Linked DNA regions of Homo sapiens. The protein of the gene in region 2 interacts with the protein of the main gene of each other region in a pairwise test. Each region holds a gene or a part of one and is shown on either strand. Other genes may lie near its edges.

Region 1 (7,026 bases), on a different chromosome or scaffold from region 2:
GATTGGGGAAGTTCTCCCGGATAATATCCTGCAGAGTGTTTTCCAACTTGGTTCCATTCTCCCCGTCACTTTCAGGTACACCAATCAGACGTAGATTTGGTCCTTTCACATAGTCCCATATTTCTTGGAGGCTTTGCTCGTTTCTTTTTATTCTTTTTTCTCTAAACTTCCCTTCTCGCTTCATTTCATTCATTTCATCTTCCATCGCTGATACCCTTTCTTCCAGTTGATTGCATTGGCTCCTGAGGCTTCTGCATTCTTCACGTAGTTCTCGAGCCTTGGTTTTCAGCTCCATCAGCTCCTTTAAGCACTTCTCTGTAATGGTTATTCTAGTTATACATTCTTCTAAATTTTTTTCAAAGTTTTCAACTTCTTTGCCTTTGGTTTGAATGTCCTCCCGTAGCTCGGAGTAATTTGATCGTCTGAAGTCTTCTTCTCTCAGCTTGTCAAAGTCATTGTCAGTCCAGCTTTGTTCCGTTGCTGGTGAGGAACTGCATTCCTTTGGAGGAGGAGAGGCGCTCTGCTTTTTAGAGTTTCCAGTTTTTCTGCTCTGTTTTTTCCCCATCTTTGTGGTTTTATCTACTTTTGGTCTTTGATGATGGTGATGTACAGGTGGGTTTTTGGTGTGGATGTCGTTTCTGTTTGTTAGTTTTCCTTCTAACAGACAGGACCCTCAGCTGCAAGTCTGTTTGAGTACCCGGCCGTGTGAGGTGTCAGTATGCCCCTGCAGGGGGGTGCCTCCCAGTTAGGCTGCTCAGGGGTCAGGGGTCAGAGACCCACTTGAGGAGGCAGTCTGCCCGTTCTCAGATCTCCAGCTGCCTGCTGGGAGAACCACTGCTCTCTTCAAAGCTGTCAGACAGGGACATTTAAGTCTTCAGAGGTTACTGCTGTCCTTTTGTTTGTCTGTGCCCTGCCCCCAGAGGTGGAGCCTACAGAGGCAGGCAGGTCTCCTTGAGCTGTGGTGAGCTCCACCCAGTTGGTGCTTCCCGGCTGCTTTGTTTACCTAAGCACGCCTGGGCAATGGCGGGCGCCCCTCCCCCAGCCTCGCCGCCACCTTGCAGTTTGATCTCAAGACTGCTGTGCTAGCAATCAGGGAGACTCCATGGGCGTAGGACCCTCCGAGCCAGATGCGGGATATAGTCTCCTGGTGCGCCGTTTTTTTAAGCCCGTCGGAAAAGCGCAGTATTCAGGTGGGAGTGACCTGATTTTCCAGGTGCCGTCTGTCACCCCTTTCTTTGACTAGGTAAGGGAACTCTCTGACCCCTTGCGCTTCCCGAGTGAGGCAATGCCTCGCCCTGCTTCGGCTCGCGCATGGTGCGCGCACCCACTGACCTGCGCCCACTGTCTGGCACTCCCTAGTGAGATGAACCCGGTACCTCAGATGGAAATGCAGAAATCACCCGTCTTCTGCGTCGCTTACGCTGGGAGCTGTAGACTGGAGCTGTTCCTATTCGGCCATCTTGGCTCCTCCTCCCCATCTATGGTGGGCCTTAGCTTTTCTAAGAGGTATGAGGAGCCATTGAAATGCTTAAAGTTGAAGCATCACCTGGCTAGTTAGGCAGTGCTAGAGAAATAGGAAGACAACTGAAAGCAAAGCCGTCAGCTGGAAGACTATCCAAGAGTGTGGCAGTGGAGATGGTGTGGCAGGAGCAAACAAAAGGTTTAAGGAGCCTGAGACCAATAGGACTGGTTGCTGACGGTTAGGCAGGTGGGAAGGAAGTATGATGAGATGTTTGATATGAATTTCAAATTTTTGACTTAAGAAGTTGGAGGTGCTGTTAGGAAGAGCTGGTTGGGGAGAAAAAAATACTAATATTTCAGTTTTAAACATGTTTAATGTGAATATTTACGTGCAGCTCTACTCAGAAGGCAGTTGGAAGTATGGGAACAGAGCCTGCAAAGAGGTCTAGGCTGGAGACAGATAACCTGTGTTCCTCAGCATGTTGGTGGTTATTGAAGGCATGGGAGTAAGTGCAGTTGTTGAAGATAAGAAGGAAGAGTGAAACAGGAAAAGAGTTAAGGAAAGGAAAATATTTAGGGCATACCAACATTTGGTAGATTTTTCAAAGGAAGATAAACCTCCAAAAGAAACTAGGAAGAAAACGTCAGGGAAGAGAAGGTCTAGGCCGGAATTGAATGATGTAAATCCAAAAGGATAGAGCTGACCAGGATGAAAGGGATTGGAAATGGTCTCAGTCAAATCAAACACAACCATACTGGAGGAAGGGAGGGAGAGACACAGAAGGACAGTTGTGTGTGCTTACATTTCTGATGTGACACAGCATTTTAAGAAACAGGCTGTGTCCTTGGAAGACAGAGACTAAATTGGTATGAAGGTGAAGATTACAGTCAGGTAATCAAAGAGATTTATATTGATTCACATCAAATAAATGTGAAAGTGACCCAAGATGAGGGTTGCAGTACTTGGAATGGAGAAGGATACTGTCAGCTGTGTGGGTATCGATACCTCCGTGTACGAGGTGCAACAACTCATAGTTAAACAGATTTTAGAAAAAGAGGAAAGTAATTATTTCCTCCTCTGGGCAGCCACACTTAATCTTTTACCTTTATCTCACAGATATCTCTTGAGATACCTATCACTTTGTAGTTTATAATAGAATTATTTCTGTGATTTCCTCACTTTCACATTTGTTTCTTTGTTCTGTCTATCTTCCGCTAGATTGTAGGCTGTTTAAGGGCCTGTGCTGTGTATTTTTCATTATTGCTTTATCCTTACTACCTAACAAAGTGTCTGGTACATAATAAATACTCCATTGGAAACTATTGAATGAACAATTGAATGAACGGATGAAAATGGAAGAGGGGGCAAAAAGAAAGAACAAAAGAGTCAGATGGTTAGAAAGGAAAATGAGTCATTCTCTCACTTCTCATGCTGGACAACAAGCCTTCCCTTGTGGACAGGTCCTTTGTCTTATCCGGTGCCATCAAGTATCACCAGCATAGTGTCTCTTGCAGAGTAGATCATCTAGAAATGTTGCTGGAGTGGATAAGTGGGAGCATTCCCAAAGCATATTTTAATTTCGTAGGTTTTCTTTCTTTTTATACTTTATTAATTTTTTAATGTAACAAATAATTGAGGAAAAGTTATCAACAGATTGATTCATAAATATAGTAAAGTATGCATATTCTGTATTTCACATATCTGATTTTATATGGTGATAGCCCTTTTGATTCTTCTGGAAAAGGAAACTCTTTATGACAAGATACACTTCGTATTTGGTGGAGATTGAATCAATAAGTGGGGAAGGAAAAGCAAACTCCAAGGTGCTGTGGCTCTGCCTGTCGCAAGGTCACCAATTGACCTGTCATCCCTTTGAAAGGCCATCCTTAAAGGAGCAGTTTAGAAGCATCTGCTCACTGGCACTCCCACTACCTATTTACCTTATTCAGTGTCTTTCTCCCTTTTTGTTATTCCCAATTCTTGTCTTTTTACTTTGGTGAACTAGAGAATCACTGTCTGCTTCAACTAAACGTGCATCATTATATCTCTAATCTTGGTTTTTCCTCATGCCAGGAGAACTTAAGGGCCAGTCATTCATTCTTAGTGGTTGGAAATTCTACCCTATTCTGAATTATTACACAGGAAAAGTTAAGGTTTCTGAACCAGCTTGAAGGATGTGGCAGTGTTAGGAAGTCAAAAAATTGTTTACTGCATGCATCTACTTGTATTTTAGCTAAATATAATGAACTTTTTGTACCATGGTTATCTTTTCCTGCTATTCTTTCTGCTTGCTTTCTTGTTTTTATCTCTAAAGAAAATATCTGACAGCTAGATGACCCATTAGAACACATTATCTTTTAAATTATGTGTCATTATGTAAGTGCTTTTCCCACTTTCTTCTGCATTGTGTATTACTGGATATATTTATTTTTTTTTTTTTTTTTTTTTTTGGTAACCTGGTAAAATGCCAGTCTCTTTCTGATGTAAATTTCTCTTAGATCACCATAATAAAATGCTTTGTGTATTGCTGTACCCCTTAAGGGTTTTAAATGCTGTTCTCTGCTCTTTTGGAAGGAATATAAATTAAAATCTTCAGGCTCTCCCAGTGGGTGTAACATTACTATGAAACATTGTTGAATTTCCAAGTGTAGCTAAAATTGATTCATTAAATTTCATTCTGCTAGAATCGTAAAATGTAAGAGATTAGGATGAGAACAGCCCTTATAGGTCATCCACTCCAACTTCCCTATTTAATAGATGAAGAAATGAACCTCCAGAGACAGTGACTTACCCAAGGGCACAGAGCTACAAAGTGCCTTCAACAAGACTGGTTTCCATTTCACTGTACTCCTTACCAAACTCTGACCCTTCATCTGGCAGACTCTTTGACCCACCTCCTCTTTCAGAATGACATTTCTCAGTGCCATTAGCCTTCTCCATAGCACTAGCAACATCTTCAGCCCAAGCTTTTTAATCATCACTTGTATTTTCTCTGGTTGAAAGTTATTTTATGGTAGAAATTGAGAACTATGAAGAAATTGTGCTAATTTAAAAATTTACTAAGTGCTATATCGTGGCCAGAGTTAATGCAAATTCTCAAAATGTCTAAACTGTTCCTAAAGAGACCTACAAAGCAAAAGAATATAGTTTTTCCTCTTAGTTTATTGTCTATGAAGATCATATACAATGTTATGATGACACATAGTTTCATAAACTGATGGAAATTAGAATTGACAATAAAATGCTATGTTCTTCTACCCGATGGATCGAGGACCATATAGGAGGGTAGTTTCTTAATTTATTGAAATCTGCTTTTATTCTATGATATAAATAGAATAAAATAGTAAACCTCAACTCTCTCATCTATAAAGTGAGGACATTTAAATACTGTGTACACAATTGAGGATTGGAATAACACTTATAACTTCCCATATAATTTATTATAATTAGTTTAAAGGAGTGTTTTTTTCTCTAATACAAAATTTAACATAAAACTTTTAATATATATTTGTACAAAATGGTTCATTATAAATGTATGTCAACTCTAATTGCCTTCCATTTAAACTTACAATTAAGTCTGTTGTAGTAGATTCTAGATCAAATATGTATGTGTGTATTTACAGTTAACTTGGAGACTTATAGTTATAAGACTAGTGTCCTCAGTGACTGCTATCTTCTGATTAAACTCTGAAAAATTAAGAGAGTCCATTTTAAAGCCTCTGATTGTGGAAAATACTTCTTGGTTGACATTAATACTGTCCATTCAATGCACTTCATAGAACATTTAACTTATTGTAAGATCATTGGCAGCAGTCTTATATATATTTCTAGTACAGTGAATGTTTAGTCAGAAAATGTACTTTCCTTGTAAAATCTATAGCTATTCATAATTTCTTCCTCTCAGTAAACTAACCAAAAATAGTTGTCTTAATCAGGTTTTATTGTTTTTCTTTCTTCACAGCTCCGACAGTTAGTTAATATGTGCATCAACCCAGATCCAGAGAAGCGACCAGACGTCACCTATGTTTATGACGTAGCAAAGAGGATGCATGCATGCACTGCAAGCAGCTAAACATGCAAGATCATGAAGAGTGTAACCAAAGTAATTGAAAGTATTTTGTGCAAGTCATACCTCCCCATTTATGTCTGGTGTTAAGATTAATATTTCAGAGCTAGTGTGCTTTGAATCCTTAACCAGTTTTCATATAAGCTTCATTTTGTACCAGTCACCTAAATCACCTCCTTGCAACCCCCAAATGACTTTGGAATAACTGAATTGCATGTTAGGAGAGAAAATGAAACATGATGGTTTTGAATGGCTAAAGGTTTATAGAATTTCTTACAGTTTTCTGCTGATAAATTGTGTTTAGATAGACTGTCAGTGCCAAATATTGAAGGTGCAGCTTGGCACACATCAGAATAGACTCATACCTGAGAAAAAGTATCTGAACATGTGACTTGTTTCTTTTTTAGTAATTTATGGACATTGAGATGAACACAATTGTGAACTTTTGTGAAGATTTTATTTTTAAACGTTTGAAGTACTAGTTTTAGTTCTTAGCAGAGTAGTTTTCAAATATGATTCTTATGATAAATGTAGACACAAACTATTTGAGAAACATTTAGAACTCTTAGCTTATACATTCAAAATGTAACTATTAAATGTGAAGATTTGGGGACAAAATGTGAGTCAGACACTGAAGAGTTTTTTGTTTTGTTTTAATATTTTTGATATTCTCTTTGCATTGAAATGGTATAAATGAATCCATTTAAAAAGTGGTTAAGGATTTGTTTAGCTGGTGTGATAATAATTTTTAAAGTTGCACATTGCCCAAGGCTTTTTTTGTGTGTTTTTATTGTTGTTTGTACATTTGAAAAATATTCTTTGAATAACCTTGCAGTACTATATTTCAATTTCTTTATAAATTTAAGTGCATTTTAACTCATAATTGTACACTATAATATAAGCCTAAGTTTTTATTCATAAGTTTTATTGAAGTTCTGATCGGTCCCCTTCAGAAATTTTTTTATATTATTCTTCAAGTTACTTTCTTATTTATATTGTATGTGCATTTTATCCATTAATGTTTCATACTTTCTGAGAGTATAATACCCTTTTAAAAGATATTTGGTATACCAATACTTTTCCTGGATTGAAAACTTTTTTTAAACTTTTTAAAATTTGGGCCACTCTGTATGCATATGTTTGGTCTTGTTAAAGAGGAAGAAAGGATGTGTGTTATACTGTACCTGTGAATGTTGATACAGTTACAATTTATTTGACAAGGTTGTAATTCTAGAATATGCTTAATAAAATGAAAACTGGCCATGACTACAGCCAGAACTGTTATGAGATTAACATTTCTATTGAGAAGCTTTTGAGTAAAGTACTGTATTTGTTCATGAAGATGACTGAGATGGTAACACTTCGTGTAGCTTAAGGAAATGGGCAGAATTTCGTAAATGCTGTTGTGCAGATGTGTTTTCCCTGAATGCTTTCGTATTAGTGGCGACCAGTTTCTCACAGAATTGTGAAGCCTGAAGGCCAAGAGGAAGTCACTGTT
Region 2 (7,233 bases):
TGCGCCGAACCCCACCCTGGGGGCTGGGAGAAGCCATGGCCGGCTTTCCCAAAGGTGGCACCACACTGGCCATGAGCCTGCATGTGAGCCTGGGAAGACTGGCAATGGGTCCCCCAAACACTAACAGGACAACCTCAGGGGCCCGTGGCACGGAGCTTCCTGAGAGGCCAGCAACATGTCCAGCTGCTACACGTGAGAGACCAAGGGAGGGGAGGGGGCAAACTCTTCACGTTTCTGGCTTCTTTTAAAACAGATTTGATTTTATTCAATCCAAACCAGAAGGGCCAGAAGCAAAGGGAGAGAGAACCCCAGGGCTTACCATTTATTAAAACTACTTTAAAAATTTTTTTTAAGAGACAGCGTCTTACTCTGTCACCCAAGCTGGAGTGCAGTGGAGTGATCATGGCTCACTGCAGCCTCAAACTCCTGGGATCCTTTTGCCTGAGCCTCCTGAGTAGCCGCAGCTACAGGTGTGGGTCACCACACTCAGCTAAGTTTTCTTATTTTTTGTAAAGACAGGGTCTTGCTTTGTAGCCCAGGCTGGTATGGAATTCCTGGCTTCAAGCCATCTTCCTACCTTGGCCTCCTGAAGTATTGGGATTACAGGCGTGGGCCACCATGCCCAGCCAAAACTATCTTTTGATCAAACGGAGAGTTAAGAAGTATACAAAGATGGCAACCAAAGGAAAATCTGTAGATTAGAAGGAAGGAGAACCCTATTTGATATGGTGGGCAGGGGGTGGAGAGAAAGAAAAAAGAAAGCTTTAATAATTTTACGACTGAAATGGTATGCAGTTCTCTCCTTTGCCAAATATAAAAACCTGGGGCCGGGCGCGGTCGCTCATTCCCGTAATCCCAGCTCTTTGGGAGGCTGAGGGCCAGGTGCGGTGGCTCATTCCCATAATCCCAGCTCTTCGGGAGGCTGAGGTGGGTGGATCACGAGGTCAGCAGATCAAGACCATCCTGGCCAACATGGTGAAACCCTGTCTCTACTAAAAATACAAAAATTAGCTGGGCATGGTAGTGCACGCCTATAATCCCAGCTACTCGGGAGGCTAAGGCAGGAGAATCGCTTGAGCCCAGGAGGCAGAGGCCGCAGTGAGCCGAGATCACACCACTGAAATCCAGTCTGGGCCACAGAGCGTGACTCCGTCTCAGAAATAAATAAATAGATAATAAAAAAATTTAAAAAAATAAACTTGGTATCAAACAAAGAGAAAGGTCGAAGGACTAGGTTAGGAATCACTAACTGAGGGAGGGCCCACTCAGCTGTCTCCCACTTGCTAAGACACAAGCTTTTTGACGGTGGGGGGTTTTTGATGCTGGATGATTTTTCCCACCAGCGCAGCCTCAGCACCAAGGACAGAGGCCAGCCGCTGTGGCCTGAAGGCTGCCTCGCTGCCACCTCCCCTGCTGGACTCATCCTGCGGGCAGGGCTTGCTTGGTGGACTCACTGCTGAATCAGCAAAGCCTGCCGCACAGTAGGCACTCAACAAGGCTGCCGAAGAAGAAATCGGTAAAAACTCCTACATGGGGTTCTCATCACACCAGCTCACGTGCTTATTAAAAATTCCAGCAGCCGGGAGCGGTGGCTCATTCCTGTAATCCCAGCACTTTGGGAGGCTGAGGCGGGTGGATCACAAGGTCAAGAGATCGAGACCAGCTTGGCCAACATGGTAAAACCCCGTCTCTACTAAAAATACAAAAAAATTAGCTGGAGTGGTGGCGAGTAGTCCCAGCTACTTGGGAGGCTGAGGCAGGAGAATGGTGTGAACCCAGGAGGTGGAGCTTGCAGTGAGCCGAGATCGCGCCACTGCACTCCTGCCTGGGCGACAGAGCAAGACTCCATCTCAAAAATAAATAAATAAATTAATTAAATTAAATAAAAATATGTTCCAACGGCCGGGCGTGGTGGCTCATGCCTGTAATCCCAGCACTTTGGGAGGCTGAGGTGGGTGGATCACAAGGTCAGGAATTCAAGACCAGCCTAGCCAGCATGGTGAAACCTCATCTCTACTAAAAATACAAAAATTAGCTGGGCATGGTGGTGTGCGCCTGTAATCCCAACTACTTGGAAGGCAGAGGAGGAGAATTGCTTGAACTCGGGAGGCAGAGGTTGCAGCAAGCCAAGATCGCACCACTGTACTCCAGCCTGGACAACAGAGCCAGACTCCGTCTCAAAAAAAAAGAAATAGGAAGCAAGCCGGATGTGTTGGCTCACGCCTGTAATTCCAGCTACTCAGGAGTTCAAGACCAACCTGGGCTACAGAGCCAGACCCCATCTCCACAAAAATAATCCCAGCTACTCAGGAAGCTGACATGGGGGGTACTGCTTGAGGCCCGGAGTTCAAGACCAACTTGGGCTACATCATGAGACCCCATTTCTACAAAAATAAAAAATAAAACGGAACGGGGAGCATCTACGTGCCAAGATGTGGGAGGTGCACACAGCAAGTGCTGCTTGGCAGTCCCCCACAACCCCACTCCACACCTCTCCACCCAGGGGAGTTCCCCAGCAAGGAAGAGTTCAGCTGTGGGGTGAAAACATTACGTGCTGACTCTGACACTCCTGGCGGGCCCCCAGCACCTCCTCGGACCCAACAAGGTGTGCCTTCTGCTGATGACCAGCACAGCTCACTTTCGAGGGCATGAGAAGACCAAGGGTGAGTCTGGATTCTCTGCCAGGAGCACGGGAAGACCAAGTCAACACCAGCAAGCACGAAAACCACGACGAACCCCCCACCAGGCGAGGGTGAACGGACACTGTCCTGCACTAGCCCACTCTGCTGGGCAGCTGGGCAGCAGCTGTGGCTAATCTAAGTGACGGGTGCTTCGAGAGCACCCACAGGTTAAAACGGGCCCAGGCCATGACACTTTAAAATGGTGGTTTACAGAACAATGGCATCTCAGATTAGGGAATGACCTGCAAAGACCCTCTTGTCCCCATCAATCCAGATTTTAAGGCCTCTACCGAAATTGATCAAATCAGGCTAAGCATGGTGGCTCACGCCTGTAACCCTAGCACTTTGGGAGGCTGAGGCAGGCAGATCGCTTGAGGTCAGGACTTCGAGACCAGCCTGGCCAACATGGTGAAACCCCGTCTCTACTAAAAATACAAAAATTAGCCGGACCTGGTGGTGGGTGCCTGTAATCCCAACTTAGGAGGCTGAGGCAGCAGAATCACAGGAACCTGGAAGGCGGAGCTTGCAGTGAGCTGAGATCGCGCCACTGCACTCCAGCCTGGGCGACAAAGTGAGACTCCGTCTCAAAAAAACAGAAAAGAAACTGGTCAAATCAGATGTTACTTTTTTTTTTTTTAAATGTGCAGTGTTATCTGCACTCCTTCCTTCCACAGGCAGGAGTTCTCTGAAATCCAGACGCTGCACGTTTTATTTCCCCTAATTTAAACCAGGGGTTCCTGAACATGAGCGAGTGTTCATCACCTCAAGCGCCTGTAGAAATGCAGATCCCCAGCCCCCAGAGACCCTAAGTGGACCCCAGATCCCCAGCCCCCAGGTGAAAAACCCATCCCCCAGGTGGGAGGTCCGGCCCCAGGTGAGGAGCCCGGCCCCAGGTGAGAGGTCCAGCCCCAGGTGAGAGGTCGGGCCCCCGGATGAGAGGTCCGGCCCCCGGGTGAGAGGTCTGGCCCCCAGGTGACAGGTCCAGCCCCAGGTGAGGAGCCCGGCCCCAAGTGAGGGGTGCAGCCCCAGGTAAGGAGCACGGGGCTGTGACGCGTGGACATGCGCGGTGAGGCCTCAGGAATCCAGCGCCAGCGCCAGCTCGGGTCGCGCCCTCGCCCGCCTCCTCCCTGGTCTCGCCGCGCGCCCGCCTGAAGGCCCCGGTCGCGGCAGCGCGCACTGACCTCCGCAGCTCCCGGCGGCGTCCTTCGAAGCGCGGCTGCCTGGGCCAGCCTCGGCAGGAAGCAGGACGGCGGAAACAGAACAGAGCCCGAATCTAAAGTCCTTGCCCAAATCTAAAGTGGCTACCGCAGCCCCGGCCGCTACGGCCGCAGAGACCCTCTGTGCCCTGAGTAAAGATGGCCGCCGCGGGCTGCGCGCGAGGGGCGGGGAGCGGGAGGCGGGGTCGGACCTGCACGCCCCGCCCCCGGACTCCTGGCGGCCGCTGATCCGGGGCCTTCCCATTGGTCACCTCTCGTGGCGAACTCGGATTGGGCCATATCAGGCCGGGGCGGGTCCCATCAACCAATAGCGGCGCGGGGCTGGCGGGTGGGGCGGGGCCTCGCCGGCGCCGTCAAGTAGCCTGGGGGACAGGCCGGCGCGGCTGGGAGCGGGTGGGCGGCCGGGAGGCCGGAGCAGCACGGCCGCAGGACCTGGAGCTCCGGCTGCGTCTTCCCGCAGCGCTACCCGCCATGCGCCTGCCGCGCCGGGCCGCGCTGGGGCTCCTGCCGCTTCTGCTGCTGCTGCCGCCCGCGCCGGAGGCCGCCAAGAAGCCGACGCCCTGCCACCGGTGCCGGGGGCTGGTGGACAAGTTTAACCAGGTGGGAAGGGGCCGGGCGGGGTCGTCAACCTTGGGCCCGGGGTCCCCCTCACCCTGCATCCGGGGTCGCCCCACCTTGGGCCCAGGGTCGCCCTCACCCTGGATCCGGGGTCCCCCTCACCCTGGATTCGGGATCCCCCTCACCGTCGATCCAGAGTCCCTCCACCGTGGTCCTGGAGTCCCCCTCACCCTTGACCCGGATCCACCCCCACCGTGGAACCAGGGTCGACGCCACCGTGGGCCTGGAGTCCCCTCACCCTCGACCTGGGCTCGCCCCCACCCTGGACCCGGGTCAGGTGGTACCAAGCACTATGGGCACTGTCTCCTCGCAGGGGATGGTGGACACCGCAAAGAAGAACTTTGGCGGCGGGAACACGGCTTGGGAGGAAAAGACGCTGTCCAAGTACGAGTCCAGGTGGGTGCCCTGGAGCACCCCTGTGGGTCTTGGCCTGGCGCTGTCCTGGGAAGTCGTGTCCTGCCTTTGGTGCCTGTGTTAATGACAGGGAGACAGAACAGCCCCCGAGGCACCAGTCACCCGTCCGAGTCACCTCGGCTTCTCCCTGAGGACTAATGGCTGGCCCCTCTCTGGCCTTCCAGCTTCTGCTCTGGTCCCTACCCCCTCAACAGACAGTGGCTTTTCAAAATGTAAACTGGAACACCAGCCCCACTTGTGGGAACCGCTCCTGGCTTCCCCTGACAGTGGGGTCCCCTTATTCTCTGTGCCCGGAGTCCTGGCTCCCCGGCCCCTGCACCCAGGTTGGCGTATTGGTTCGGATTTTTCTTCACTGCCTTGGAGGCGCTGACGGTGGGCCGGTGTGGGCCTGTGTTTCAGCGAGATTCGCCTGCTGGAGATCCTGGAGGGGCTGTGCGAGAGCAGCGACTTCGAATGCAATCAGATGCTAGAGGCGCAGGAGGAGCACCTGGAGGCCTGGTGGCTGCAGCTGTGAGTGCCTTAAAACCTCTTAGAAGATACTTTTTATTTTCCAACTTAGAATTTGAAATAACCTCAGACTTAGAAAGGTACAGGAACAGTAGGGAGCTCCCACCTGCCTCGCACCCACCTTACCCCTGCATTACCGTTTTTTATCACCAGAGTCAGCGATCAAAACCAGGAAATTAAGGAGAAGATTCTGTCCACACCTAGACTCTTGTTTCCTGGACCTTACAATACTCCAGAGCATATGTTACGTTCAGCTGCATGTTTGTTTTAAAGAACCGTGTCTGCTGGGATTCAGTGAATGTTTTCCTCCATCCTCAGGAAGAGCGAATATCCTGACTTATTCGAGTGGTTTTGTGTGAAGACACTGAAAGTGTGCTGCTCTCCAGGAACCTACGGTCCCGACTGTCTCGGTGCGTTTCTCCTCAGGGAAATCCCATCTCCTACGTCACTTCCCCTCTTCTTCTCATGATTCTTGGGAGGTAAAAGCACAGAGGGGACCTGGGGTGCATCAGCTTTCTGTAGGGTCTGGGACCCTGCCGGATGGCTGCCTCCCCCATCCCCAACACAGCTTGGAGCACTTCGCACCGTCTGGCTGCAGCCTCACCACTAACCTCATGCTTTAGCGTAAAACTCTGAGTATGTCTTCCCAGCTGTGCTGTTAATTCAGGGGTTCACAGACTCAGGTTGTTCACAGCTGAGTCCACTCACCTGAGAGTCTGTCCTGACTGACCTGTCCAGGTGCTTCTCCCTGTGTGCACAGAGGTGACCACACCACAACTTCTGTGGCTGCTATTGCAGAGAGCGCAGGGCACTGGGTGTCTATCAGGCTGGGCACATGGCCTTGAGCCCCAATGGGTGCCAAGGGACAGGGCTCTTCTGTGAAGAAGTGTGCATTGAAACTGAAGTCACGGTTTACTGTTTATAAAAGCCAATCTCGTGGTCAAGCGAGATCAGGTAGCAGAAGTTTCAGGTTCAGACCCCCCACCCGCCCACCATCAGCCTTCTGCCAGCCCCTGCTGCTGTCCCTGGCATGCACTGGAGGCCGCAGCTAATGTTCCCACTCTCCCTGCAGTCCCCGCGCCTGACGCGTCAGTGTCCCTATCACCATGTTTCAGCTGAGGCTGCCCAAAGCCACACAAAGTGCAGTCATGTGTAACGACCAGGCGTGTTCTGAGAAATGCGTCATTAGGCGACTTTGTCATGGTGCAAACATCACAGCGTGCACTCCACACGCCACACGCCACACGCCTAGATGGTGCAGCCGCTCTGCACCTAGGCTGCCTGGCAGGCCCTGCTGCTCCCAGGCCGCACACCTGCACGGCTCGTGAGGGTCCTGAGTACTGTGGGCCATTTGGCACGTGGTAAGAATGTGTCACCTGAACACATCTAAACATAGAACAGGTAATGAGGCACATTGTGATGTCACTAGGCAATAAGAGCCGCTCAGCTTTAGTATCATCTTAGGGGACAGCTGTGCTATGCAGGGTCCCTTGTTGACCTAAACGTCATCATGCAGCACGTGGCCATAGTGAAGCCCAGGAGCCTGTGGCTTGCTCCACTCAGGCGATCCACCGCCAGCCCTGCAGACCCAGGAAATCAGTTTCCCCAAACACCCACTCCAAGCCTTCAGGCTCATGTACGTCCTCAGAATCGTACAGGGTTTGGGTGCCATGCGTTCTCTCCGTGTGAGAACACCGCACCGGTCACCACCAGGTGTGCTCTGAGCATGGTTTTGTGTCCCCTAAAGCATGCCAGGGCGGATCCCAGAGGCCCTGCAGCGGGAATGGCCACTGCAG

The links. The genes of interacting proteins can lie anywhere in the genome.
Region 1: the proteins of CRELD2 (region 2) and NEK7 interact in binary tests that used the Homo sapiens proteins (3 or more experiments, as listed by UniProt).

The regions. Positions count from the first base shown.
Region 1 is NC_000001.11:198,313,989-198,321,014, forward strand, and holds part of NEK7 (serine/threonine-protein kinase Nek7), read left to right. Parts: intron 1-5,423; coding exon 5,424-5,534; 3' UTR 5,535-7,026. UniProt on the Homo sapiens protein: Protein kinase which plays an important role in mitotic cell cycle progression. Required for microtubule nucleation activity of the centrosome, robust mitotic spindle formation and cytokinesis.
Region 2 is NC_000022.11:49,914,401-49,921,633, forward strand, and holds the start of CRELD2 (protein disulfide isomerase CRELD2 isoform b precursor), read left to right. Parts: upstream 1-4,233; 5' UTR 4,234-4,369; coding exon 4,370-4,498; intron 4,499-4,829; coding exon 4,830-4,912; intron 4,913-5,329; coding exon 5,330-5,440; intron 5,441-5,755; coding exon 5,756-5,847; intron 5,848-7,184; coding exon 7,185-7,233. UniProt on the Homo sapiens protein: Protein disulfide isomerase. Might play a role in the unfolded protein response. May regulate transport of alpha4-beta2 neuronal acetylcholine receptor.